Linked DNA regions of Homo sapiens: region 2 is linked to region 1. The links come from fine-mapping of genetic effects on gene expression. Tissue or cell type: whole blood. Region 1 holds a variant in brackets; the other region holds the start of a gene. All regions are shown on one strand. Distances are from middle to middle.

What was found. PIP is the estimated chance that this variant, and not a neighbour inherited with it, causes the effect.
Region 2: it holds the start of HERC3, and the variant in region 1 is fine-mapped to the expression of HERC3 in whole blood (TOPMed, PIP 0.92).

Annotation. Positions count from the first base shown.
Region 1 is chr4:88,695,213-88,703,393 of GRCh38, reverse strand. All of the region lies in intron 23 of HERC3 (HECT and RLD domain containing E3 ubiquitin protein ligase 3), which reads right to left. It overlaps NAP1L5 (nucleosome assembly protein 1 like 5), which reads left to right and starts at 5,565. Exons shown (of 1, transcript NM_153757.4): 1 at 5,565-7,481. The coding sequence starts at 5,640. The coding sequence ends at 6,188. RefSeq lists an enhancer at 5,416-5,475. The variant T/C (reference allele first, on the strand shown) is at 3,473.
Region 2 is chr4:88,587,750-88,595,930 of GRCh38, reverse strand. It overlaps HERC3 (HECT and RLD domain containing E3 ubiquitin protein ligase 3), which reads right to left and starts at 3,451. Exons shown (of 26, transcript NM_014606.3): 1 at 3,357-3,451; 2 at 317-374. RefSeq lists silencers at 2,426-2,835, 3,156-3,715, 3,886-3,945.

The DNA.
Region 1 (8,181 bases):
ATATATAAAGATCAACCAAATGAGAAGAGCAAAGGCTATTTTTTCAGAGCTGCTATAGCAAGAGAGTCAGCCACTGTCACTTGTGTTGTGGCAGAGACTCAAAATCAAGCAGAGGAGTGGAAAAGCTTTACAGTGGAAAGAGGGAAGGCTTCAGGTACACTCTGATTGGAGGCTGCTAGTCTGGGGAAGCTGCAGGTGGGCTAACTAGAAGTGGGGCATCCTATGTGACTGGTTAAGGGTGTGTATTTGGCTTTCTCTGGTTGGCCCTAAGTTGGAAGTAGGAACAAAAATTAGGGAAGCTGCTGATTATTAATCACATCCTGGCCTATTTGGGCCCACTGTTACAGAAGTTATCGAGACAGATGGCAATCAGGCTGCCTGCAAGTCTGACTTATAGCAGGCTGGCTTCCTGGGCTGCTTATTGCAGATAAGAGGTTGGTTTCCCGGGCAGGTTGCTGCAGATTGTGGGTCTCAGCTCCATGTTTATTTATATATGGCCTGGCCATTGTCCATAGGAATATTCAGTCTCTCACAAGTGGAAATATAAACTGTGAACCTAGACATAAACATTTTGGGGGGAAATTCTGTCAATATCTAGATAAGTTGAAAATGTAAATACCCTTGACCATGCCACTGTGCTAGCGGGTAGGTAATGCAGAGACGCTAACATGTGTGCACAAGAAGATGAGTGCAGGCAAGTTTACTGCAGCATTTTCTTGCAATATAGAGAATTTAGAGAAACAACACTAAACATCCATTAATATGAACATGGACAAGGAAAAGATGGTAGAGTCATATGATGGAAACCATAAAGCAGAGCACTTTGATGGAATTAACTAGATCTAAACTTAGCAAAATGAATAGAATCTCAAGAACAATGCTGAGTGAAAATCAAGTATTTGCATGTTCAGTAAAATATGATGGCATTTATGTAAGTTGTGTTTTAACACTTAAAACAATGCTACTTATAAAAGGTAGTAGCTCTGTCACTCAGAGCTTGTGACCCTTGGGCAAGTTATTTAACTTCTCCATGCCTGTGTCCTCATTTGTAAAATGGGGGAGAGTAAGAGTAGATAACACATGGGACTGCTTTAGGATTAAATGAGTGAATACATGTAAGAGTGCTTAAACCAAGGCTGGTGTATAACAATTACTTTGTAAGTATTAACTAGTATTATCATATTGTTTATGGATATGAGATTTTGCTTATGAGTATGAAATTATAAATATGATGCATACATAAGATGTGTAAGTGTTCATTTTTAAAAACAAAGACATTAATGTAAAAAGATCTTTGTCTAGCCAGGTGCAGTGGCTCATGCCTATAATCCCAGCACTTTGGGAGGCTGAGGCAGGCAGATGGCTTCAGCCCAGAATTCAAAACCAGCCTGGGCAACATGGCAAGACCCAGTCTCCACAAAAAATTAGCCAGGCCTGGTGGTGCATGCCTGTAGTCCCAGCTGCTCAGAAGGCTGAGGTGGGAGAATCACCTGAGCCCAGGAGGTCAAGGCTGCAGTGAGCCATGATCACGCCACTGTACTTCAGCCCGGGTGACAAAGCAAGACCCTATCTCAAAAAAAAAAAAAAAAATCTGTTTTAACATACATGTTTATTATAAAAAGTATAAAAACATAAAAAAAACATATCAAATTCATAAGAGTTTTGTCTGTGTAAGAAAGAAGGGCGGGAAGAGGGGAATGGAATTAAGGGTATGTACAACAGTATCAGTAATTTGGAATTAAGGGTATGTACAGCGGTATCAGTAATTTTTTTCTTTTATTAAAAAATCTGAAGCAAATACCTGTTGACTGTGGATCATATATACAAATGTTTGTCACATTAACTTTTTGTATTTTAGATTAAAAACAATTTTAAAACTTCACATCATGAAGATAGTTATTTACTACTTATCCATCACTGTAATTTAATACTTCATAAAGCTACATTTGAATTATTGGGTTTCCTCCAAGCAGATAGTTTTTACATGTTCACCATCCACACCAATAACTAGCCAACAAATGGTGTAATACAGTGGATAAGTGAGGCAGACAGGGGTTCAAATCCAGGCTCTGCCATCTTCTGTATCTAACTAGTAAGCCTCCCTTTTCCCATTTTTAAAATGGTATAACTGTGCAATCTTTAAAATAAAGCCACTAATGTAAAAAGATTATTGTGCATGTTAATCATTGATGCTGAAAGTTTCTCACACCGTATATAACACCTCACTTCTCTGAAACCCATGACACTAAACTAATGACATTTTTCTGATACAATTACCCAAGAGAAACACCATCACAACAATTTTTATTACAGACTGTGATGGTTAATTTTATAGGTCAACTTGGCTAGGCTATGGCATCCAGTTGTTTGGTCAAACACCAGTCTGGATGTTGTTAAGATATTTTTTTAGTTGGGATGAACATTTAAATTCATTGACTTTGAGTAAAGCAGGTTACCCTCCATAATGTGGGTAGGCCATATCCAATCAGCTGAAGGCCTTAAGAGAAAAAGACTTGAGGTCCTCCAAAGAGGAAAGAATTCTCCCTCCAGACTGTCTTTGGACTCAAGATTTAAATATTAACTATTGCCAGAATTTCTAGCCTTACAGCCTACCCTGCAGATTTCGGGTTTGACAGCCCCCACAATCACATGAACCAATTCTTTAAAATAAATCCCTCCTTGCCCCCACCCCCCTCGGCTTCACACCCTGTTGGTTCTGTTTCTCTGGAGAACACTGACATATAGATTTCGGTACTAAGAAGTACAGTACTACAACAGCAAATACCTAAAAACGCAGATGTGCCTTTGAAATGAGGAAATAGGTAGAGCCTGAAAGAGTTTTGAGGAGCTTGATAGAAAAACCTAGATTTCACTTAAGGGACTATTGGTAGAAATAGCTCAACAGTCTCAGGAAGCAGCCTGAGACTCTCACCATCTACATGCCCAATCTTGAACCTTTTAGCTAGCAGCCTCCGGTCTTCCTTTTTAGCAACACTAAACAGATTAAAGCCACTTTGGGAAACAGTGTGGCAGCTTCTTATGAAGTTAAGCGTACATTTACTGTATGACCCAGCAATCCCACTGCTAGGTGTCTACCCAAGAGAAATAAAAGTCCATGCTCATAGAGAAACCTGTAGATGAATGATCACAGCATTATTCACAATTATGAAAAACTGCAAACACCACAAATGGGAATACTACCCAATAATAAAAAGTAAAATAAAAAATAATAAAAAATAAATTTACTAATATATACAACAACATAAATCAATCTCAAATGTACTCTGCTAGTAAAAAAAAAAAGCCAGGCTCAAATGGCTACATTCATATGATTCAATTTACCTGACATTCTGGAAAAAACAGAGGTACTGAGACAGAGAACAGCACAGTGCTCACCAGGGCTGGATGCTGGGGAAGGGCCACAACGGACTTTTAGGGGACTATTTACTGTTCTATATCTTGATTACTACAG[T/C]GCTTACATTACTGTATTTGCTTGTGAAAGCACGCCCAAAAGGACAAATTTTACTGTTATGTAAATGATACCTCAATAAGCCAGACTTTTTAAAAAACAGTCTGGTTTAACACTAAGTTTTAAGATCTGTTGAGACAGGAAAATAAAAATCTTGAAAGATGAACATGCCCTAAATATTTTAAGCAAGTTAAGTTAGTCAAATGAATTTAACCAAAATGTGGGATTTTTTTTTTAAAGTCTGTCACAACATCCATACTATAGGGGTCAAAAGGCCTGTTTTCTGCCCCTGCATCTGCCAATTAAGTGATACATGCAGTAAGATGATTTCACTGTATTTGCTTCTAAGTTTACTATCTGTAAAATGAGAAACATCATTCCTAATCTCAAGGCAGCTGTAGCCATCAAAAGAGATGATATATGGGAGTGAGAAAGAAGGCAGAGAAGATGGTGAGCCAGTAAGAAGATGGTGAGCAGGGTAAAGAAGACGGTTGGGGGAAGGTGGTGAAGACCGTGGGGGAAGGTGGGGAAGAAGACAGATCGTGGGGAAGAAGATGGTGGGCAGGGTGGGGAAGAAGAGGGTGGGGCTGCGTGGGTGGGTGGGGAGGAAGAGGGTGGGGCTGGGTGGGTGGGTGGGGAAGAAGAAGGCGGGGCTGGGGGTGGGTGGGAAGAGGGTGGGGCTAGGGGGTGGGGAAGAAGAGGGTGAAGAGGGTGAGGAAGAAGAGGGTGAGGAGCGTGAGGAAGAAGAGGGTGAAGAGGGTGAGGAAGAAGAGGGTGAGGAGCGTGAGGAAGAAGAGGGTGAAGAGGGTGAGGAAGAAGAGGGTGAGGAGCGTGAGGAAGAAGAGGGTGAAGAGGGTGAGGAAGAAGAGGGTGAGGAGCGTGAGGAAGAAGAGGGTGAAGAGGGTGAGGAAGAAGAGGGTGAGGAGCGTGAGGAAAAAGTTCGGTGGGGGGAAGGTGAGGAAGAAGGCAGTGGGTGAGGAAGAAGGGGGTGAGGAGGGTGAGGAAGGTGGGGAAGAAGAGGGTAAGGAGGGTGGGGAAGAAGAGGGTGAGGAAGGTGGGGAAAAGGACAGTGCGGCGGGGGGAAGGTGAGGAAGGAGGCAGTGAGTGGGGAAGAAGGCGGGGAAGAAGATGGGCAGAAGGTGGGGCATAAGTCAGTGCGGGGGAGGGGCAGGAGGGAGGGAGAAGATGTGGTGTGGAAAGGTGTGAAAACAGATAGTGGGGAAGGCAGGGAAGCAGACGGTGTTGGGGGAAGGCAGGGAAGACGAATGTGAGCGGGGTGGGATAGATGGCACATGCTTTAACCAAGATAAGAGGGGGCCTTGGCCCTGGGCCCCATGCTTTAGAAAGACTTGCTTTTTTTCAGCCCTCCTCAAGCTTTAGTCCTTCCCACAGGCCAAAGATTCTGTAGGATCTTCTAGAACACACACCAGGACACCGGGAGCTCTGAGATTTCCTACCCAAATGGCTCCAAAACTGCTTCCAGGGGAGTCCTGCTGAGAGACGACCTTGCCACCAAGATATATGCCGCTAGGTGTGTGGGATGGCCAAGGGGGTGTTGGGTGGACACATAGGTACAGAGCTTGGATATGCAAGCTGCCCTATCCACACACATGCACCCCAGGTCCCCAAAGGGGTGGAATGGAGCCAGCTTGCCCGTTCCTCCACTGCATGGAGAGGAATGCGGAGGAATCTAAGAGGTGATCAAACGCCAGCTATGGAGAGAGATGCAGAGGAAAGCGAAGACATATGCACTGGCATTTGTAGAAGGGCCTGGATGGGGGTGAGGAGCACACGGAAAATGGTCTGAGGCCATCTATGCAGTTCCTGAAGAAGCACCTCGGGCAGCTACTGACACTCCCAGCCCAGCTCTACAGGGGTGGGTACATGGGTGGGCTGGGAACAGGGTGTCTGTCCAACAGGCGGGTGTTGAGGGCCCAGAAGATGTCAGGGTAGCAACAGGAGGAATCTGGTGCAGTATGAGCACACGGCCGTCAGCTGATAGTGGGAAGCCAGTCAAGTGCCGCGAAAGCAGGAGGCGGGGCCGCGGCCAACGTCATTCCCGCGGCCGCACGTCACCGCCACTTGCCGCATCCGCAAGATCTCTCTGGACCAGCTCGGGTGCAGGGCCTCTGCGGGAGCCCTCCTAGACCTCTGCGGCTTCTCCTCTAACATGGCCGACTCGGAAAACCAGGGGCCTGCGGAGCCTAGCCAGGCGGCGGCAGCGGCGGAGGCAGCGGCAGAGGAGGTAATGGCGGAAGGCGGTGCGCAGGGTGGAGACTGTGACAGCGCGGCTGGTGACCCTGACAGCGCGGCTGGTCAGATGGCTGAGGAGCCCCAGACCCCTGCAGAGAATGCCCCAAAGCCGAAAAATGACTTTATCGAGAGCCTGCCTAATTCGGTGAAATGCCGAGTCCTGGCCCTCAAAAAGCTGCAGAAGCGATGCGATAAGATAGAAGCCAAATTTGATAAGGAATTTCAGGCTCTGGAAAAAAAGTATAATGACATCTATAAGCCCCTACTCGCCAAGATCCAAGAGCTCACCGGCGAGATGGAGGGGTGTGCATGGACCTTGGAGGGGGAGGAGGAGGAGGAAGAGGAGTACGAGGATGACGAGGAGGAGGGGGAAGACGAGGAGGAGGAGGAGGCTGCGGCAGAGGCTGCCGCGGGGGCCAAACATGACGATGCCCACGCCGAGATGCCTGATGACGCCAAGAAGTAAGGGGGGCAGAGATGGATGAAGAGAAAGCCCACGAAGAAAAAAGCCTGGTTTTGTTTTTCCCAGAATATCGATGGACTTAAAAAGGCTCAGGTTTTTGACCAAAATACAATGTGAATTTATTCTGACATTCCTAAAATAGATTAAATTAAAGCAATTAGATCCTGGCCAGCTCGATTCAAATTTGACTTTCATTTTGAACATAATAAATATATCAAAAGGTGTTAAAGAAAACTGAATTAAACCCAAAATTATGTTTTCATGGTCTCTTCTCTGAGGATTGAGGTTTACAAAGGGTGTTAGCAGATGCGAAGTAAAGAACGTCACTTTGAAACCCATTCATCACACAGCATACGCTACACATGGAACACCCAAGCCATGACTGAACACGTTCTCAGTGCTTAATTCTTAAATTTCTTTACTCATGACATTTCGCAGTGCAGAGAAGGCAGAACCCAAGAAAAACGTCATCTTTGAGACTTTGCTTTTGTAACGCAGACATCAGCTTTACACTTCACAGGAGATTGATGGCATTGAGGAAGATTGCAATGGAGATCATGACACTACTGTTAATAAGGCCAGGAAAACTGCCATTTCAAGTTCTGAAAAATGTTTTGAGTATTTGAATTTAGAGAAACAACATGGTTCCAAGAAGGAGGGTGTAAAACCTGTAAAATACTGTCAACATATGTATTCATTAGTTACAATCTCATGTTTGTGTTTTCTTAGTACTGTCTATTTACAAACACGTAAAAAATACCCCAAATATGTTTAAGTATTAAATCACTTTACCTAGCGTTTTAGAAATATTAATTTACTTGAAGAGATGTAGAATGTAGCAAATTATGTAAAGCATGTGTATCCAGCGTTATGTACTTTGCGCCTTGTGACGTCTTTCTGTCATGTAGCTTTTAGGGTGTAGCTGTGAAAATCATCAGAACTCTTCACTGAAGCTAATGTTTGGAAAAAATATATACTTGAAGAACCAATCCAAGTGTGTGCCCCTACCCCCAGCTCAGAAGTAGAAAGGGTTTAAGTTTGCTTGTATTAGCTGTGCCTTCATTATTTTGCTATGTAAATGTGACATATTAATTATAAAATGGTGCATAATCAAATTTTACTGCTTGAGGACAGATGCATACAGTAAGGATTTTTAGGAAGAATATATTTAATGTAAAGACTCTTAGCTTCTGTGTGGGTTTTGAATTATGTGTGAGCCAGTGATCTATAAAGAAACATAAGCTTAAAGTTGTTTATCACTGTGGTGTTAATAAAACAGTATTTTCAAAAAATATATATAAAAGACTCGGTACTGTGACTGCCTGCATTCAAATCCCAGCTCTGCCTCCTATTAGTAATGTACCTTAGGCAACTCAGCTAATACTCTCAGTGGCCAGTTTCTCCTCATCTACAAAAGGGAATAGGAATAGTCCCTTCCTCATGGGTTACTATGAAGAGCAAATGGATTAATACATATAAATCCTATAGAATAGCATCCAAACCATGGTAAGTGCTGAATAATTCTTAGCTATTATTATTACATGAAAGATAAAGACAGTGATTGGAAATTCAATCCTCCTCTCCTGTTACAAAATGGGAGAAAGAGACATCACTACATCCCTCCCTATGTTTTTGATTCCTTATTATGAGAGAAGAATGTGGCCTTTAATTCAGAAATGCAGGAAATTAAATAAACTATCTTGTTTTGGTTTCCTCAATATAATATCAGGTTTTTATCATCTCCCAGAAAGGATAAAAAAGGCTATTTCAACTTTATGTTTGCTTCATTCTGAATGAAGCAGAAAGTTTTTTTTAAAAACTGGACTCCAGAAAAATTAAAAAATCAGATGCCATTTGCTTCCTTTTCCCTGAAGGGTTAAAATTACAAAGAAGCAAAATTATATTGCTTTATCCTAGGGAATGGAAGGCAGCACTGACCTGTTGCTAATCACAACAGATTGTTGAGTACAAACAACCTTAAGGTAAAGTTAATCTT
Region 2 (8,181 bases), 110 kb after region 1:
CCTGCAGTGAGCCGAGATCCCGCCACTGCACTCCAGCGTGGGCGACAGCCAGACTCCCTCTCAAAAAAAAAAAAAAAAAAAAAAAAAAAGAATTAAGTGCTTGAAGCAGAGACCAGAAACCAGGTCTCCTACTTCTTGGGCTCACCTTGTTCTCTTCACTATCTTAGAGCAGCAGGAAGGCACTGAGATTTGTTTAGGTCCCTCTCTAGGTAGCTACCCTAGCTTGAGTTGATGAGAGTATTAAACAGGATAATGCATGTAAAGGACTCCATTTACAAGATGAAAAACTGAGGTCCAGAAAAATTAAGTAACTCACCACAGGTCACACACTTGGCATTGGACTAGAAGCCAGAAATATTCCACACCTTGCAGTTCTGCAAGTTAAAGAAATAATAAATAACATTAGTATGGAACTCTGTTGTGTCTTCATGTTACTGTAAACAAAAAGACAGGAGTTAACCTCTGAAAATAAGAATATCTTTAAATTACTCAATCTTGAATATTCCCCACGCATTGTATCTCAAGACAGGAGTTTGGTTAAATACCAGTAAGATAACCTCTAACCAGTTATAAAGACATCAATCACCTCTAAAAGTGAACTAGAGATATAGATATCACCTTATAAAAATTCCTGACATTTGATAGGGAGTAGTAAAAATGGAATTACTTTAAAATCTCCCATTTTTGTTAGAGAAAATTTTGGAAAATAATTAAATTTTGTCTATTTTCTTTATTTTTCCATGTATGACACATAGCAGCTTGTTTTGCCACAACTGTTATGAAGACTGTCTCCTTTCATTCCTTTTCTTTTTTTTTTTTTTTTTTTTTTTGAGACAGAGTCTGGCTCTTTCACCCAGGCTGGAGTGCAGTGGCCGATCTCGGCTCACTGCAACCTCTGCCTCCCAGGTTCAAGCGATTCTCCTGCCTCAGCCTCCCAAGTAGCTGGAATTACAGGCGCCCGCCACCACGCCCAGCTAATTTTTCTATTTTTAGTAGAGAAGGGGTTTCACCATGTTGGTCAGGCTGGTCTCCAACTCCTGACCTCAAGTGATCCACCCGTCTCAAGCCGCCCAAAGTGCTGGGATTACAGGTGTGAGCCACTGCGCCCAGCCAGTCACTGCACCCGGTCTTTCCCTTTTCATTACCACATCCTCCATCATGCAAAATGAGAAGAGATCATCTCAGAGAGATACCTAAAGTATCTCAAAAGAAAAAGTCCTCCATGATTTTAAGATATTTTTGTCAAGCACTTTAGGAGGCCCAGGCGGGTGGACAGCCTGAGCCCAGGGGTTGGAGATCAGCCTGAGCAACATGGCAAAACCCCGTTTCGTCTTTTGGCGAAACCAAAAACTACAAAAAATTAGCTGGGCATGGTGGTGCACGCCTGTGGTCCCAGCTACTTTGGAGGGTAAGGTGGCAGATTCGCTTGAGCCTGGGAGGCGGAGGTTGCAGTGAGCCGAGATCGCACCAGTGCACTCCAGCCTGTGCAACAGAGCGAGACCCCCCATCTCGAAAGAAAAGATATTGTCATAACTTTATTTCTACCTCTCTATGCAGAAAATCCCATTCGATCTGGAGAATAGTACTTTTACTTATAAAACTGAAGCATAACTATCTTGTGTCTCCAGTAGGGGTACTACTACTCTCATTAAGTATAAAAAAAGTTTTTAATTGGTCATACAAATCTTAAGAAATTTAAATTTGGTCTTCAGAATGAAATGCTATAACGAATGGCTTCAAGCACACAACATGGAACATTCTGAAATCCCTGTTTCTTTTTCAAAAAGTAAACTCCAGCTACTTACTGAACAAGAACTGGATGCTAGTGCTAATGTGCTAATTTTGTTTTTCATGCCAAAGGAGTTCTGCCAAAGAGGTTTCTAACCTGTCCTCCTTGTTCCCTGCATTATACTTTTTACAGAAAGTTCCTAGCCTCGAAGGCGGTACGACCATGATGTAAAATATGTAATTCAATTATTTTGCTTTAGGATATGCAATCCATGTACTTTGCTTTTCTGATTTATAATGCTACTCCCTCCTCCCCCAGGGTAAAGGAAAGTACAAAAGGAGAGAGCTTCACAGTAATCTGCCGACTAAAACATGATACCCGATCACCGCATTTAAAACTTTTTATTTTTTCATTTCTCTCAAGTCTAGAGTTGAAAAATCAGCTCACTTGATCTTATCTAATCATCAAATAAAAGGTTCTAGAAATAGCTTCTTATTTGTGGAAAGAGCCAGAAGACACATACAAATGGAAGAGAGCTCTTGAATCGTCTTTCCCAAAGCATTCTATGCGTGATGAATGCAAGCAAAATCCTGGAAGGCTTTTCTCTGAATTAGGTACTTCCTAATTGAGCTCATTTGAAAGCTGATGTAAAATGCAATCAGAAAGCAGCCAGAAACAGTGACAGACCAACAGCAAAGTTCAAATACTTATTCCCTGGAGCTCATGCTGCATACACATATTCCGTGCACAGTCGCATTAGGTACTGTCTCCATAGGCTCACCTGTTTCAGGTTACACATGCTCCTCTCGGTCTGGTTGCCCTGGTTTGCCCACTCCACACATTCACAAATGACTCAAGTCTCACCTGCCCCCGGCCGTCCCAGCTCCTGACACCCCCGCGTCGGTCCGCACCGACGTGTCGGCGTACACACACACACACACCCGTACACACGTGTCCGCACACACCCTCGCCCCCGGCCCCGCCCAGGAGGCGGACCCGGGAGAGGCGAGCCGGCCCGGCCTCCGCGAAGTGGGTGGTGCCGGGCCCCGCAGCCCTGCCGGCGCTGTCATCGCGGACGCCGTGCACCGCGTCCTCGGCGCAAACTCCTCGCGGCCGCTGAGGTTCCCCAAAATGCCAGGGCCTCGCCAGCTCCCATTTCAATTGAAAGCGTCCGCGCCCCTCACTGCACGGAGGTCCCTGGAACCCCAGAATTTAAATAGGGGCAGGGGGCGAGCATAGGGACTATCCTCCTTTTGACTTTCTGCGTCGCAATTCCTCCCGGGCGGCAGGGCGGGAGGGCGGCCGAGCGCGGGCGGGAGGCGCTCCCATTTTGAAGGCTTGTCTCGCCTTTCCCGGCGCGGGGCTCTCTGACCGGAGGGCGAGCCCACGAGAACGCCAGGGAGGCGTACGCAGGGTACTAAGGGCGCCGCGCCCCAACCTCCCCGCGCCCCAGACCCAGGTCGTCTCTGGAGGTGCCTGCAGCCCCCGCCGCCGGAGCCACGGGAGGAGCCGCAGCCGCCCCTCCGGGAGCCGCGCGCTGACTGCAGTGCCAGGCGGAACGCGGCCCAGCGCGGCTGCAGCTCCGCCGTACCCCCCTCCCTGGAACCCCGGCCCCCGCCCTGCGCACCTCGGCAGCAGCCGAACCGCAGCTTGGGACTCCGACTGTCACAGCCCCTCTCGCCGGACCCGGGGTTTCTCCGTTTTCGGCGTCACAATAATAAGGAAGTTTCCCCGCAAGCCTGCGGGCGGCGGAATGCGCTGGGTGAATGGCTTCGCACCGGGCCAATGGGCGCCGTTCTGGGATGGGCCCGCGCCAATGGCGGCCGCCGTGGCACGGGCTGGAGGCGGGGCGGCAAGGTCCGCGGGCAGGAGGAGGGGAGAGGCCCAGGCCCCAGAGCCAGGCGCAGGCTGCCCGAGGTGACAGGACTCGAGGGCCCGGCGCGGGGACAGCGGCACGGGTGTGTCAGCCGAAATCGGACTGCAAGACATAGAGCGTTGACGCTGAAATAAGATTGCTTTTCACTGGCGGGGAAGCGAGCTGGACCGATCAGCGGTTGCCTATTCAGGTTCTGGACTCTGGTTTTTATTATTTATGAAGAGGTGACCGAAAGCCTTGGGCACGGGGGAAAAAGCTGGAGGGTGACAATTGAGGGAGAGTGCGCTAGTCTTCTGCTTTACTCCCCTTCGTAGGACTGTAGGAAGCGCGGCGCCGGCCCGCGGCGCTGCGCGGTGGGAGAGGCGGGGAAGGAGGTACGCGGCAGCCGCCGGCGCTCTTCTGGAGAGGTGGGGATCGAAGACCGGCACGGGGCTGCGGAAGAAAGGCGGGCCTGGGGGAGGCTGGAGGGTGGACCCGGGGGGAGCATAGCAAGAAGAGTCTGAGCACCAGATCTTAAAATCTTGTAATCTGAAAGACACTCTGTGGCCTATACCCAGTAACGGATTTTTTAAAAGTTTGTCCTCTTCCACTTTTCCCTAGCGCCGAATCCCAGAGCTTCCTCCCCCTCCCCAAGGTCACTAGTGCTTTCATACTTGCCCTAGACCTGATCTGATCCACAGCTAATCTTTTGCAGAAAACCTCAGAAAGGTGACTTCATGTGTCTGCCCCCCTTAAATGTAAAATGCAGAACACTGGCACGGTACTGCTTTAATCCAAAGGAATAACTCTCCCAGTGGAAGAATTTCTATAACCTGGCATTTGAAGCAGGAAGGCCCTTTGAGGATAGATTCTTACCAAGGACATTCAAATCACCTCAGGTCTGCAATCGCTCGTCCTGAGAACCTAACAGACTGACCAAGTAGAAAAGAAAGTTTCAAGGAGTGGTGTATCCTGGGGATGAGACGTTGTTGGCTGACTGACAGTGTTGAGCCCTCCGTGAAATAATGCAAATTGTCCAGTACACTGAGACAAGAAAGCTAAAAAAGCAGAATCTAAGTTATCAGGTCATCTAAGAAAAAATCCAAACCTTTGAAATTTGGATCACACTTGACACGTTTAGAAACACTGGGGATGGCCAGGCGCGGTGGCCCATGCCTGTAATCTCGGCACTTTGGGAGGCCGAAGCCGGTGGATCACTTGAGGTCAGCAGTTCGAGACCAGCCTGGCCAACATGGTGAAACCTTGTCTCTACAAAAAAAAATACCAAAATTAGCCGAGTAGGGTGGTGTGCGCCTGTAGTCCCAGCTACTCAGGAGGCTGAGGCAGGAGAATCACTGGAACCTGGAAGGCGGAGGTTGCAGTAAGCTGAAATCAAGCCACTGTACTTACTCCAGCCTGGGCAACAGAATGAAACGTTGTCTCAAAAAAAAAAAAAAAAGAAAGAAAAAGGAAAAAAGAAACACTGGGGACAAGAGTAACACAATTCACTTATATTCCAGATATGTGGCAGTTTCACAAAAGTTTAGTCTATTACAAAGATGCAATCCCAATTTAGAGATGCTGTTGGCAAAAGAACTGGTTAAATGCCCAAAGAGGAGTCTGGTAGGAAGACGAAGGAGTCCGGTACTTGCAAAGGAGAAAGTGAGAGATCCTATTGTTAGGTGTCACATATGAGGTTTGTAATCAATCAGTGTTTGGGTTGATATGTCTGGCCCATGGCTCAAGTGTTTTTCTTTTTTTGTTGTTGTTTTTTTGTTTTTTGTTTTTGAGACGGAGTCTCGCTCTGTCGCCCAGGCTGGAGTGCAGTGGCGCAAACTCGGCTCCCTGCAAGCTGCGCCTCCCGGATTCACGCAAGTCTCCTGTCGCAGCCTCCTGAGTAACTGGGACTACAGGCGCCCACCACAACGCCCGGCTAATTTTTGTATTTTCAGTAGAGACGGGGTTTCACCATGTTAGCCAGGATGGTCTCAATCTCCTGACCTCGTGATCCGCCCACCTCGGCCTCCCAAAGTGCTGGGATTACAGGCGTGAGCCACCGCGCCCGGAGTTTGTTTTTTTGAGAAGGAGTCTCGCTCAGTTGCCTGGGATGGAGTGCAGTGGCGCGATCTCTGCTCACTGCAACATCCACCTCCCCGGCTCAAGCAATTCTCCTGCCTCAGCCTCCCGAGTAGCTGGGATTACAGGCGCTCACCACCACACCCGGCTCATTTTTGTACTTTTAGTAGAGGCGGGATTTCACCATGTTGGCCAGGCCGGTTTAGAACTCCTGACCTCAAATCATCTGCCCACCTCGGCCTCCCAAAGTGCTGAGATTACAGGCGTGAGCCTCCGTGCCGGCCGGCTCAAGTGTTTTTCATATGAAATTTCATCTTGAGGAAAAGGATGGTTATCAAAGACTCAAGCCTAGAAATGGGATAGGAGCAATGTATAAATAACAAGTTAGGATACTGTAAGCTTCTTTTACCAAATAAATAGCCAAACCCTGAGAACTTACATAGAACTTACATAGAACAGTAAAGATACCACAGTACTTCGATTTATTTTTTTTCATTGGGACAACATATAATGACAATTTCCTTAGCAAGCATGTCCTGCTTCAAAATGGCTTTAAATGGCTCCAGCATCAGCAATAGTCTTAACAGCAGATACGTAAACTGTTTTGAAGAGGCCATGGTTTACTTTTTCCTTCCATTTCTATAGCCCTGTCTTCCATCCATTTCTTTCTGCATTCTCATATATTCTCTAACAAACGTACTATATACTGAGCACCTACAATAATGTCAGCCCCTGTGAATACATTGGTAAGCAAAACAGTACAGTCTTTGTTGCCATGAAAGGGGAGACAAACATTAACCAAATAATTGTACCAAGGAATATATACTTGCTAACCTGTATAAATTTTATAAAAGAAAAACATTCATGTTAAAAATAAAAGGCTTAATAAATTCTAGGCTCATGCCCCTGTAATCCCAGGGCTTTGGGTTACAGGCTGAGGCAAGAGCATCGCTTGAGGCCAGGAGTTTGAGACCAGCCTGTGCAACATAGTGAGTCCCTGTCTCTCCAAAAAATAAAAATAGGCATGGTGGGGCACGCCTTTAGTCCTAGCTACTTGGGAGGCTGAGGTGAGAGAATAGCTTGAGCATAGGAATTCGAGGTTGCATTGAGCTTTGATGGCACCACTGCACTCCAGCCTGGATGACAGAGGAGACTCCAAATACACACACACACACGCACACACGCGTGCACATACACACACACACACACATATAACCATAACTTTTTTTTTAAGAGACAGGATCTTGCTATGTTGCCCAGGCTGGCTTCAAACTCCTAGACTCAAGCAATCCTGCTGCCTTAGCCTCCCGAGGAGCAAGGATTAAACTAACCATAACTTTTGACAGGGGGACAGGACCATGTGGTTCAGCTCTATCACTGGTTAGACAAGGTATGCCCAGTGGCAAGGGGATGGTGCCCAGGGCTGCTGCACTTCTACCTGAACACATGCTGATTTCCTCCATTAGTTACCATTCACTTCTTAAAATACATCTATTTTCAAATGAAACCATTTTTCAATAGAATGGTAATACTGTTTAATGATAATTGTTTTCCTTTCTTCCCTTTGTTTAATTTACTTGCCTTGCAGACAAATATTTACTTGGTAAACTTTGAAAGAGATAGATTTCTGATATCTTGGATGAAATCTGTGGAAAAAAACAGGCTACCCAGGACATTCTGTCTCTCAGATACACCATTGAAGAATAAATATCTTTAGGAGGGAAAAGCACTGACTGATTATTTGACAAGTAAAAAGTATGTGTACCTTGTATGGTTATGTAATGACAAAGGTGTTTCTTGGTCCCCCACGTCCAAAAGAAGTACTTACTTTCTCAGTCTAGTCAGTACTTAATGGAAAAATCAGTCTATCTATACCCAGACTAAACTTATTAAAAACTGTCCTGTAACACACAGCATTGATTTATTAATATGAAACAACTTAGAATAAAAACATTATGGTAAATCAGTATTACCATCAAATAATCTTTTAATATTATTGAATATGTTCCACCTGTAGTACTGCTAGACAAGAAGCATCATTCCTGACTACAAAGAGCTTACAGCCCTTATGATTATTTCTCTATCTTCCTTGAAACTATTCATGGTTTGTTTGCATTTTTTTCTTATCAAGCCATTTGGATGAAGCATAAGAATCTTACCTTAATTATGAGAAACTCATTGTTTTCATATAAATTAAAATGTATTAATGATAACAGGATTGGATGGTTGAACATTTTCTAAGAAAACCTTTAAGTTGAGCATTAGCTGGTCTCTGAAGATTTCATCCAATAAAGCCTTTAGGAAGTGAAGTATTTCGTGAAGGTTCCTCCTTTTAAAAAGTCCCTTAATATGTGCTCTTAGAAATGGCATCCCACATTTCACTATGACTGGACTGGCAAAATAAGTGCTTGGGCAAAAGCAGCAAAGATCACGTTTGTCATCATGTAGCTGCACAGAATACATGCATGTAACTGCCAAAAATCAGGCAGCTGTCTCACCCTTCTAGAGGCAAAGAAACATA